Linked DNA regions of Homo sapiens. The protein of the gene in region 1 interacts with the protein of each later gene in a pairwise test. Each region holds a gene or a part of one and is shown on either strand. Other genes may lie near its edges. The genes, in order: GLE1, ZNF366 and CLCN7.

Region 1 (3,648 bases):
AACCTCTGGTTCTAAAGAAGTTTCTTCCTTGTCTGGTTCTCACTTTCTAAACCTCAGTCTCTGGAGAGAAAAGGAGTCCTGGAGGATGAACAAGGCGAGCTTGGAGTAATTTGGAAAAGCTAATGTTGTAGGACAGAAGCAAAGCCTGCAAGTCACAGCCTAGGTTCCCTGAGTGATGTTTTCAGCAGTAAACTGCAACTTCAAAGCTAAGAGCCATCCTAATAATTTGCCATAAAAGGTAGCTTGTTAAAAATGAGTCAAAAAGGCCGGGTGCAGTGACTCACGCCTGTAATCCCAGCGCTTTGGGAAGCTGAGGCGGGCGGATCACAAGGTCAGGAGGTCGAGACCATCCTGGTTAACACGGTGAAACCCCGTGTCTACTAAAAATACAAAAAATTAGCTGGGCGTGGTGGCGGGCAGCTGTAGTCCCAGCTACTTGGGAGGCTGAGGCAGGAGAATGGCGTGAACCCGGGAGGCAGAGCTTGCAGTGAGCCGAGATTGCGCCACTGCACTCCAGTCTGGGTGACAGAGCAAGACTACATCTCAAAAAAAAAAAAAAAGGGGGCTGGGCACAGTGGCTCACGCCTGTAATCCCAGCCCTTTGGGAGGCCGAGGCAGGTGGATCACCAGGTCAGGAGATTAAGAACATCCTGGCTAACACAGTGAAACCCCGTCTCTACTAAAAATACAAAAAATTAGCCGGGTATGGTGGTGGGCGCCTGTAGTCCCAGCTACTCAGAAGGCTGAGGGAGGAGAATAGAACAGCGTGAAGCCGGTAGGCGGAGCTTGCGGTGAGCCGAGATCACGCCACTTCACTCCAGCCTGGGCGACAGAGCAAGACTCTGTCTCAAAAAAAAAAAAAAGAAAAAAAGAAAAAAAAAAGAGTCTTCTTTTTTTGTTTTTGAGACAGAGTCTCGCTCTGTCACCCAGGCTGGAGTGAAGTGGTGTGATCTCGGCTCACTGCAATCTCCGCCTCCTGGGTTCAAGCAATTGTCCTGCCTCAGCCTCCTGAGTAACTGGCATTATAGGTGAGAGCCACCACACCCAGCTAGTATTTGTATTTTTAGTAGAGACAGGGTTTCACTATGTTGGTTAGGCTGCTCTTGAACTCCTGACCTCGTGATCCGCCCACCTCGGCCTCCCAAAGTCCTGGGATTACAGGCGTGAGCCCAGCCATGATTATATCAGGGAAACAAGATGTATGTCACTTATATGTACCCGATCCAACTGTAAACATTTGTTTGAATATACTTTTATAGGAACCTTACAGATACATAGATTTGGAGTCTGAAAGATAATACAATGAAATGAAAGGTCATGTTCTCAACCCCTCTGACCAACCTGCAATGGTAGAGATTTGGCTCACTGGGATGGTAGCAGCCTTCTGGAGGTCCATCTTTATCTTTTTGGCCTGCCAGAAGAGAACAGTGAGAAAGCAGTGTTCTGAAGAGCTGAGTAGATGTCACTTAGAATCAGGTAAAGTGACATGCCAGCTACATTCCTTTGGGACACGAAGTGATCATTCTCTGAGAACCATCAAGTCCACAAAATTACTGCCATATACCTCTCCCCTACCTGACTGTCCTTGCTGTTGGTCAGGCCCTCAAAGGTCAACACACACTGCATGGAAGCATCCTGCAGCTGCTGGTACCACTGCATTGTAATGTCTTGTACCTTCACCTGGAGGTCTGAGAAATAAAAGAGAGGTTTTAGTAATAGCTAGTATTTACTGAACATGTAATATGAGGCAGGCACTGTTATAATCACTTTATGTATGTACTGACTGCTTTAACTGTCACCATAACTATGAAATAGATACTATTATTATCTCCATTTTATAGAAAAGGAAACAGGCACAAAAAGGTTAAGTGATTTGCCATGGTCACATTACTACTAAGTAGAAAAACTAAGGCTGGGTGTGGTGACCCACGCCTATAATTACAGTACTCTAGGAGGCCAAGACAGGCCCAGGAGCTTGAGACCAGCTTGCACAACATGGTGAAATCCCATCTCTACAAAAAATACACAAATTAGCCAGGCAGGGTGGCGCATGCCTGTAGTCCCAGTTACTTGGGAGGCTGAGTGGGGAGGATCACTTGAGCCTGGGAGGGTGAGGCTATAGTGAGCCATAATCATACCACTGTACTCCTCCAGCCTGGGTAACAAGAGTGAGACTCCTATCTCAAAAAAAAAACAAAAAACAAAAAACGCTGGGCGCAGTGGCTCATGCCTATAATCCCAGCACTTTGGGAGGCCAATGCTGGCAGATCACCTGAGGTCGGGAGTTCGAAACCAGCCTGACCAACATGGAGAAACCCCGTCTCCACTAAAAATACAAAAAAATTAGCCAGGTGTGGTGGTGCATGCCTGTAATCTCAGCTACTCAGGAGGCTGAGGCAGGAGAATCGCTTGAACCTGGGAGGCGGAGGTTGTAGTGAGCTGAGATTGTGCCATTGCACTCCAGCCTGGGCAACAAGAGCAAAACTCTGTCTCAAAAAAAACAAAAACAAAAACAAAACACACCAAAAAAGAAAAATTAGACTCCCAGGCTGGGTGCGGTGGCTCACACCTGTAATCCTAGCATTTTGGGAGGCCGAGGCGGGTGGATCATGAGGTCAGGAGTTTGAGACCAGCCTGGCCAACGTGGTGAAATCCCATCTTTACTAAAAATACAAAAATTAGCCAGGCACAGTGGCAGGCACCTGTAATCCCAGCTACTCGGGAGGCTGAGGCAGGAGAATTGTTTGAACCCGGGAGGCAGAGGTTGCAGAGAGCCAAGATCGCGCCACTGCAATCCAGCCTGGGCAACAAGAGCAAATCTCCATCCCCTCCCCGCAAAAAACAACAACAACAACAACAACAACAAAAACCAGACTCCCACTGATCTGGCTCCAGAGTCAGCACTCTCAAACACTATGGTACACTGATTCTTTTTCTTTTTTTGAGACGGAGTCTCACTCTGTCACCAGGTTGGAGTGCAGTGGCACCACCTCAGCTCACTGCAACCTCCAGCTCCTGGGTCAAGCAATTCTCCTGCCTTAGCCTCCCGAGTAGCTGGGACTACAGGTGCGTGCCACCATGCCCAGCTAATTTTTTTATTTTTGGTAGAGATGGGAGTTTCGGCATGTTGGCCAGGCTGGTCTCGAACTCCTGACCCCTTATACGTATTACACCAACACATATCTGTGCGCATTTATTTAAAATACTCAGCAGCAGCAATAATTGAAATAATGTATCTGCTAGAGTTATACAGAATTTCAAGTCCTCACGCAAAGTGTTGGAATCGTAAATCAGACTCTACATCAACCAAAACTGAATGAAATACATTACATAAAATTCTGGTTAACTGTCCTACAGTTTAACACAACATTCAAAACATGCTCTTGTTTCTCTTCACATTTGAAACTTACGAGTTAAAGGACCACATCCATACTGAAACCCACCTTCATTCTGTTTCCCTCCTGGGCCCTGGCTGGGAGCTGGGGGCTCTTTGTGGGCCTCTGGTCCCTGCTGCATCTGTGCCTCTTGCAGCTTTACCTGGGCCTCTTCTTCATCCTGCCTCCTCTTGTCTTCGCAGGCTCTGGTGATCTCCTGCCCCAAGTTCATCAGGAGGTCCCGCATTTCCCGCAGAGCTCGCTCAGCCTCAGC
Region 2 (3,648 bases), on another chromosome or scaffold:
TCTATTAAAAAATATTTGGAAGGAGGGATGTCAAAATCTTAAATTAATGAACACTCTCTTTTCACTTTTAATGTATTATTGTTTTATTTTTTACCATGAGCATATGTTTTATCATAAACAAAAGTAAATCAATAATAAAGCCATTTTCATCTTGAACAAAACAAAGAGAACCTATTTGGGGCAGCAGACACCACCCCTGACTGTGGCCCCTTTGCCAACAGCCTACTCATAGACAGGGTAGAGATGGCATGAAGAGGTCCTCTGAGGAGCTCACACAGCCCCTGTGTCTGACCTCCAGTGTCCCTGCTGTTGGGCACAGTGATTCAAGGAGGCCTCACTTTTGCCTTCAGTTTGCAGGGCTGTAGGGATGGGCTTTTCAGCATGGCAGTTTCATTTGATCCTGTCTTTAAGGCTTTGACCTTTGATGAGCCAATAGTCAGGCCTCCAGGGATGGGCGGGACACTGAGGAGGAGCAACAGGAAGGGAGGGGTCCTGGGGTGCAGCCAGACCAGGCTTCTGGGAGGGGGTGAAAAAAGAAGGGTAGGGGCGATGATGTCCAATTTTGTTCACTTTTTGATGCTGTCAGGCAATGAAGCTGTCTGTATCTTTAATCCTGTCAGGGGACAGGAAAGATCTTTTTAATGATTTTTGAGCCATTTCAAAAGCTAGAGTGAAAAATAAAAGCTAATACCCTTTGTAGATGAAAACACTGAGATTGTTGAAAGTCTGTTAAAATTTTTCAAAGCAACCCTCTGATAGTTATTTTTCCAGAACAACAGAGCTGTTAGGTGTCTTTTAGGATTTGAGCAGCAGTGTGGGGTAAATCATGGCGACCAGGTCATGCTTTCAGTTGGAGTGTGGTCTCCTCACTGACTTGTATGTCTCCCGTCCTGATGACAGAGCAAACCTCACCGCTTCCGGAAAAATCCAGGTCTAGCTTGGGGAAGTGGCTCAGGCAACTAGAGATTCAGTGAATAATTCAGGGGAAAAACTTTTGCAGGAAAAATAAAATTGTTTTTGTTTTAACTACAATTTTTTTCAGGGCTTTTGCACAAACTCCAGCCCTTTTTTTGTGACCACAGCTCCCTGTTATCCAGGAGTCACTAGAAACTCAGCGGGTACTGTAAAAAACCTGAAAGCTACAATCATTTTGTTTCACACTGTGTGTGCATATGTCTATCTGTTTATGAATATGCTTGTCCACTCCACCATCTCTTTTGTAAGGAGGTGAGTGAAACAGCACATAAACAAATCACCCCATGTTTCTGCCTAGGGTAGTGAGCACTGGCTTGATTCAGAAATTGGGCTGGAATCCCAGTTCTGTCTTCAGACTTGCTGTTTGACCTTGAGCAGTTTATCTAACACCTCTAGGCCTTGGTCTCCTCTTATATAAAATGAGAATAACACAGTCTCTTTCACGGCATTGTAGGGCCAAGCAATAATGTCCCTAAGGTGTCTCACCCTGTGCTTTGATCATACTAGTGACCGAAAAGCTGTTAATATGATTTTGCAAACACAGACATCCTAGAGGGCAGATGGTCTCCTTCCCCTAGTATCTGCCGCTGCGTGTAGTTCACTGCTTTGGACACAAGTGCATTTATTGCCTGTTTATTGAAGGGCTGGTTGATTAGACGATTAAGGAGCAACCCTGCTGAATTGAGTAGATCTGGAACATAAACTCTTCACTGCCAAGGGCTCTGGGACTGAGAAGGTAAAGGCAGTGAGAACTTTTCATTAGTTCAGTGAGGATTCAGTGGGGGAGGTGTAAACCCCTGCTCTGCATATGGGCCAATCAGCCCTACCTACCAAGCAGGAAAATTGTCCTTGGGTGTGTCTGATTGTGAACAAGTAGGAAAGACCTAGCCTGCTACCAACATACTTCTGCTAACAGTAAGGCTTGCACATCTGTTTTCTAAAAAGGAAAGAAAAATTGCGTGCCCATTCACAGCAAAGTCATGAAGAGGATACAATAAAGGCTGCACAGTCAGAAAGGCCTAGGTTCAAATCTTGACTCTGCCACTTTTCAGCAGAGCAACTTTGGGCAAATTGATCTCTTGAAGCCTTCATTCCCCCGCTGTAAAATAGAAATAATAGAAGTTCTTCCAGCTTGGAGTTGCCATGAATATTAGCGACAAGCCACCTGATGTAGTGTCTGGAACAAAGGAACAAATAATGGTACCGACTGGCATCATGATGATAGTCCAATTTACTCTAATTCACTTGTACTTACTATGTCAGAAATTAGCATCAGATTTTTTCTAGTAACATTATAAGGTTACTCTTGCTACTCTGCTGTGGTCTTGACAAGAATAACCCTCAAGGTAATGCCCCATAAAACGAATTCAGCTCCCATTTGTTGTCCACTGGACTGACTTGCAGGGCTTCCCAGAAGAGTGATTACCTTGGGAATGAAGGCCCCGCTCCATGACTCCATGCTTGACTTTCATGTGGCGTGTCAGGTTCCCCTTCAGGGTGAATTTGCTTGGGCAATAGAGGCACTTGAAGGGTTTGCTGTCTGAGTGCAGGTGCATGTGGCCCATCAGGTTGTGCATCCGGTTGAATTCCTTCCCACAAAGCTGTTGAAGATGGGGATGAGAACACAGGTTACTCTGCCCGAGTGAAGCCCCATCCAGGCCCCTGGAGCACAGATACCGTTTCTACTTTGTTTGGACATTGACATTTTAATCTGCTTGCAAGGAAAATGTCCATAAGGAAATCAGGAAGGAGCCTCAGAGGTGGAGCAAGTAGGGGTAGATTCATGAGATTTGTTCCTGGATTTCAGAGATCTTTAAATTCAAAGTAAAAATATCAAAGCTTGTAAAGCTTCTTTTGAATAAAAGCTTTTGAAAAGGAGAAGAGCTGATCTAAAAAGCAGTGGCTACAAGTGTTCCTCCTTTAATAATAAGAATGTGATTATGTGTTTAATATTTATGCAGCATTTGCAATATGGAAGGCATTGTTCTAAGTCTACCATGGAATATCTTATTTAATTCTCACACCAATCATATGAGATGGTTGCTATTACCACCCCCATTTTACAGACGCACAATCTGAGGACTTACGTCACTTGGCCGAGGCATACAAGTGGTGGGTGCTGAAGCTGGGTTAATGAACTCAGGCCATCAGATGCCAGAGAACACATGGTCAACCACCAGACCATACTGTGCGTCTCCCAACACAACTCTTCTGTATCAGGCAGAAGAGAATAAAAGAGTACACTGTATTCTTATATACAATGTATTATTATAATACACTGTATTATTGTATACAATGTATCAGACAATGCTTTTTAAGTTGCTTTATTTTCTAATTACTGGCATGGATTTCAAAGATAAAAAAATGAAAAATCATCTAAGGAAGGAGTGTGTCTTTTCTCTGGGTAGAAATTTGAAGTAGTGAGAGTAGTATCTCAGGTGTACAGGAAGTAAGCATGTTTTATACTCTTTCTTTCTTTCTCGTCATTCTCTCTATTTCAATCAAAGTGCAAATACATGAAGGACAACTGGTTCTCCAACTGCTTTTGGAAGAGGAGCAGAACTTTCTTCTCACAGGTGATTTTGTATATGCAGAAAGCGCAACCCAGAAGCAGACTTCTCTGGGGGTGCTTTTGTTGTCCCCAAGCCTTACTAGAACAGGACAATTTCAGCC
Region 3 (3,648 bases), on another chromosome or scaffold:
CGAGAAGCTCCTGTCCCTCAAGTATGAGGTGGGCGTCCTTCTGTCCCCCTGACCCTGAGACCCGGCCTCTGCCCCCTGCCAGCCCACTCCCGGTCCCCTGTGCCCGCACCCAGAGCGTGGGTTCGGTGCTGAGTGCTGCCCTTGCTGTCCCGGCCTGCAGAGCTTGGACTATGACAACAGTGAGAACCAGCTGTTCCTGGAGGAGGAGCGGCGGATCAATCACACGGTGAGCTGGACGCCGCTCCCTGCAGGGCCCCACGGTGCGGGGCCTGGTGCCGGCCGGGCCTGGGGCTGCTCTTCTGCCGGGGTGAGGTGACGCACCTCCTCCCTCCTCCTCTGACTCCGCCTCTGAGGCCTGTGGTTCGTCTGGTTTCTAGAGACAGTGGGAGGGTCACGGTCACCGTAACCAAGAAGGCTGCTCTTACGGCCGCCAGATGCGGTGCCCAGCATAACAACCGCTGGCTGTGAAGTTGTTGGGAATTCACCCACCTCCCCGAGTCACCCTCGGGCCCCGGGTGCGCCTCAGATGTTGGCCAGAAACTGTCCTTTGTGGGACTCAGCGCACCGTGCACACTGGGCCCTTCATAATCCCGGGGCCTGCAGGCGGTCTGGGCGGTCCTGCTGCTGCCAGAGTGACTGCGCCAGGGCCCTGCCTGACCCTCGCCCTGACCGCGCCCTGCAGGCCTTCCGGACGGTGGAGATCAAGCGCTGGGTCATCTGCGCCCTCATTGGGATCCTCACGGGCCTCGTGGCCTGCTTCATTGACATCGTGGTGGAAAACCTGGCTGGCCTCAAGTACAGGGTCATCAAGGGCAGTATCCTTCCCAGTGCGGCCGCTGCAGCTTGGGAGGGGGGCGTGGCCTGGGCCGAGTCCCGGGCAGAAGTCCTGAGCCCAGCGTGTTCCAGTGCAGGTGGAGGCGGCCCGGCCAGGCTGGCTGTGTCCCTGTCATGGTTGGGCCGTGAGACGTCTCTGGGATGTCCAGTGAACATCATGGCTCCACCCAGCAGGGTGGCATCTGCCAGGCTGGTCTGTGGGGCAGGGCTGAGGTCTGGGCTGGGTGGTCATGACGGGGAAGCAGCCAGCCCTCCTTGATGAGCCCCAGATATCGACAAGTTCACAGAGAAGGGCGGACTGTCCTTCTCCCTGTTGCTGTGGGCCACGCTGAACGCCGCCTTCGTGCTCGTGGGCTCTGTGATTGTGGCTTTCATAGAGGTGGGTGGCAGGATGCCGCAGCTATGGCGGACCCCATGAAGGATTGGGGGTCTTGGTGAATGGGCGGGAACCCCTGCAGCTCACCCACCCCCACCATCACATTGGCTGACAACCCGGGCACTTTTAGAATCACGTGGTCCAGACTCACAACCTCAGGAGGAGCAGACACACCAGGGCCTCTTCACCCCCAGAGCCCTGGGGTGCTGCTCCTGACCTACCAGCACAGGCCTGGGCACCCTCACCCCACTCCGCCCCTCCTTCCATCTCCTCACTCTGCCCTCCCCTCCTTCCATCTCCACCTCCGCCTCCACCACGTCCTTGATCTGTGTCTGGGCTGGGAAGAGTGAGAGCAGCTACCCCAACGACATGAGACCCTTCCCTGGGGCCCCAACGTGTGTGCTGCTCTTCCCTTCCCTGAGGCCCCGACGTGTGTGCTGAGCTCCCCTTCCCTGGGGCCCCGAAGTGTGTGCTGCTCTCCCCTTCCCTGAGGCCCCGACGTGTGTGCTGCTCTCCCCTTCCCTGAGGCCCCGACATGTGTGCTGAGCTCCCCTTCCCTGGGGCCCCGACGTGTGTGCTGAGCTCCCCTTCCCTGAGGCCCCGACGTGTGTGCCGCTCTCCCCTTCCCTGGGGCCCCGAAGTGTGTGCTGAGCTCCCCTTCCCTGGGGCCCCGAAGTGTGTGCTGAGCTCCCCTTCCCTGAGGCCCCGACATGTGTGCTGAGCTCCCCTTCCCTGAGGCCCCGACGTGTGTGCCGCTCTCCCCTTCCCTGGGGCCCCGAAGTGTGTGCTGAGCTCCCCTTCCCTGGGGCCCCGAAGTGTGTGCTGAGCTCCCCTTCCCTGAGGCCCCGACATGTGTGCTGCTCTCCCCTTCCCTGGGGCCCCGAAGTGTGTGCTGAGCTCCCCTTCCCTGAGGCCCCGACATGTGTGCTGCTCTCCCCTTCCCTGAGGCCCCGACGCGTGTGCTGCTCTCCCCTTCCCTGATGCCCCGACGTGTGTGCTGAGCTCCCCTTCCCTGGGGCCCCGACGTGTGCGCTGCTCTCCCCTTCCCTGGGGCCCTGACGTGTGTGCTGCTCTTCCCTTCCCTGGGGCCCCGACGTTTGTGTGCTGAGCTCCCCTTCCCTGAGGCCCCGACGTGTCTGCTGCTCTCCTCAGCTCCTGGGGCTCCTGGGGCTGAGGGGCTGCATCTGTCTCAGCCTGGCCGTGACCCACTCAGCCGTGCTTCCCCTCTTTCAGCCGGTGGCTGCTGGCAGCGGAATCCCCCAGATCAAGTGCTTCCTCAACGGGGTGAAGATCCCCCACGTGGTGCGGCTCAAGGTGAGGGTGCGGTGGCCCTGGCTGGGCAGGGTGGGCGCCCGCTCTTTGCTGGTTCAGGAGCAGCTCTCTTGGCTGCCTGCCTTCCAGAACTGGCCTCAGCCACCCTGTGTACTGGTGGCACTGTGTGCAGATGGGCTGGCTGGGTGTGAAGGGGTCACCTTTTTTTCTGAAAGTGGTAACAACTGGTATTTGCACATATTAAATTACGTAAGAAATGAGTAGTCATACAGAAATGCTTGCGTGGTGCATGTGTGACACAGCTGTGCGACGCGTCTGTGACTGTGGGCTGCGTGGTGGTGACTGATTCACCGTGGAAGCTGTCGTGGTAGTGGGCGTGTAGCAGTTTCCCGCTTTCAGTTTGCCTCATGGTCATTTACACTTGGTGTTATCAGAGCATCTGGTTCTGGAGGTGCTGGGAGTCCTGACCCAGTTCCGCTGTGGTTGCTTCTGTCTGTGCCGCCATCGTTCCTTAGCCTGAGACTTGCCGCAGCCCCGTCCCGTCTGAGGATGGGTGGGCAGCATGGCCGCTGCCCCCTGGGGGTGCTTCCGGGGCCTGGTCCCCGTGGCCAAGGAGCGGGACCAGTGTGTCCCCTCTGGCGAAAGCTCCCAGGTGACCTTGGGGTGCCCCTGCCCTGTGGTGGGAGATCAGGTTTACTGGAGCAGCTGGGAATGGCGACCCGCCTGTCACCCGCGCCAGGCTGGCCTGAACCTTCTTGGATGTTGCTCTATAACTTTTGTTGGCTGAGGGTTGAGTTTGCTCGGCATCTTTAACATACAGTCCTCCCCCACACACTCAGCGCCCTTGTGTTTAGGGTCTGCGCCCTTGTGGGTTCTGCCCTGGGGCAGGGAGGCTGATAAACACCTTACACACCTTCTCAGGTGGAGAGGATGAGGCCCCTGGGGGCGGGGAGCAGCCGAAGGGAGAGGGGGCATCGTGGAGCCGCAGGTGACCAGCCTTCCAGTGCCAGGGGTGTATGAGGAGCCTTGCTAGGCGGGGCTAGCGGGAACACCTCCCCTGTGCTGGCCACGCTGGCGGAGGCAGGTGTGCCTGTAGGATGCGGTGGGCGGCCCAGCTTTGCCTCAGGAAGGAAGGAAACGAAAGAACCCCTTGCCTGCTCAGTGCT

Evidence for each region.
Region 2: the proteins of GLE1 (region 1) and ZNF366 interact in binary tests that used the Homo sapiens proteins (3 or more experiments, as listed by UniProt).
Region 3: the proteins of GLE1 (region 1) and CLCN7 interact in binary tests that used the Homo sapiens proteins (3 or more experiments, as listed by UniProt).

What each region holds. Positions count from the first base shown.
Region 1 is NC_000009.12:128,525,219-128,528,866, reverse strand, and holds part of GLE1 (mRNA export factor GLE1), read right to left. Parts: coding exon 3,444-3,648; intron 1,689-3,443; coding exon 1,576-1,688; intron 1,412-1,575; coding exon 1,342-1,411; intron 257-1,341; exon of another isoform or gene 1-256. UniProt on the Homo sapiens protein: Required for the export of mRNAs containing poly(A) tails from the nucleus into the cytoplasm. May be involved in the terminal step of the mRNA transport through the nuclear pore complex (NPC).
Region 2 is NC_000005.10:72,444,842-72,448,489, forward strand, and holds part of ZNF366 (zinc finger protein 366), read right to left. Parts: intron 2,577-3,648; coding exon 2,402-2,576; intron 1-2,401. UniProt on the Homo sapiens protein: Has transcriptional repression activity. Acts as a corepressor of ESR1; the function seems to involve CTBP1 and histone deacetylases.
Region 3 is NC_000016.10:1,457,983-1,461,630, reverse strand, and holds part of CLCN7 (H(+)/Cl(-) exchange transporter 7), read left to right. Parts: coding exon 1-28; intron 29-160; coding exon 161-226; intron 227-682; coding exon 683-815; intron 816-1,103; coding exon 1,104-1,213; intron 1,214-2,443; coding exon 2,444-2,524; intron 2,525-3,648. UniProt on the Homo sapiens protein: Slowly voltage-gated channel mediating the exchange of chloride ions against protons. Functions as antiporter and contributes to the acidification of the lysosome lumen and may be involved in maintaining lysosomal pH.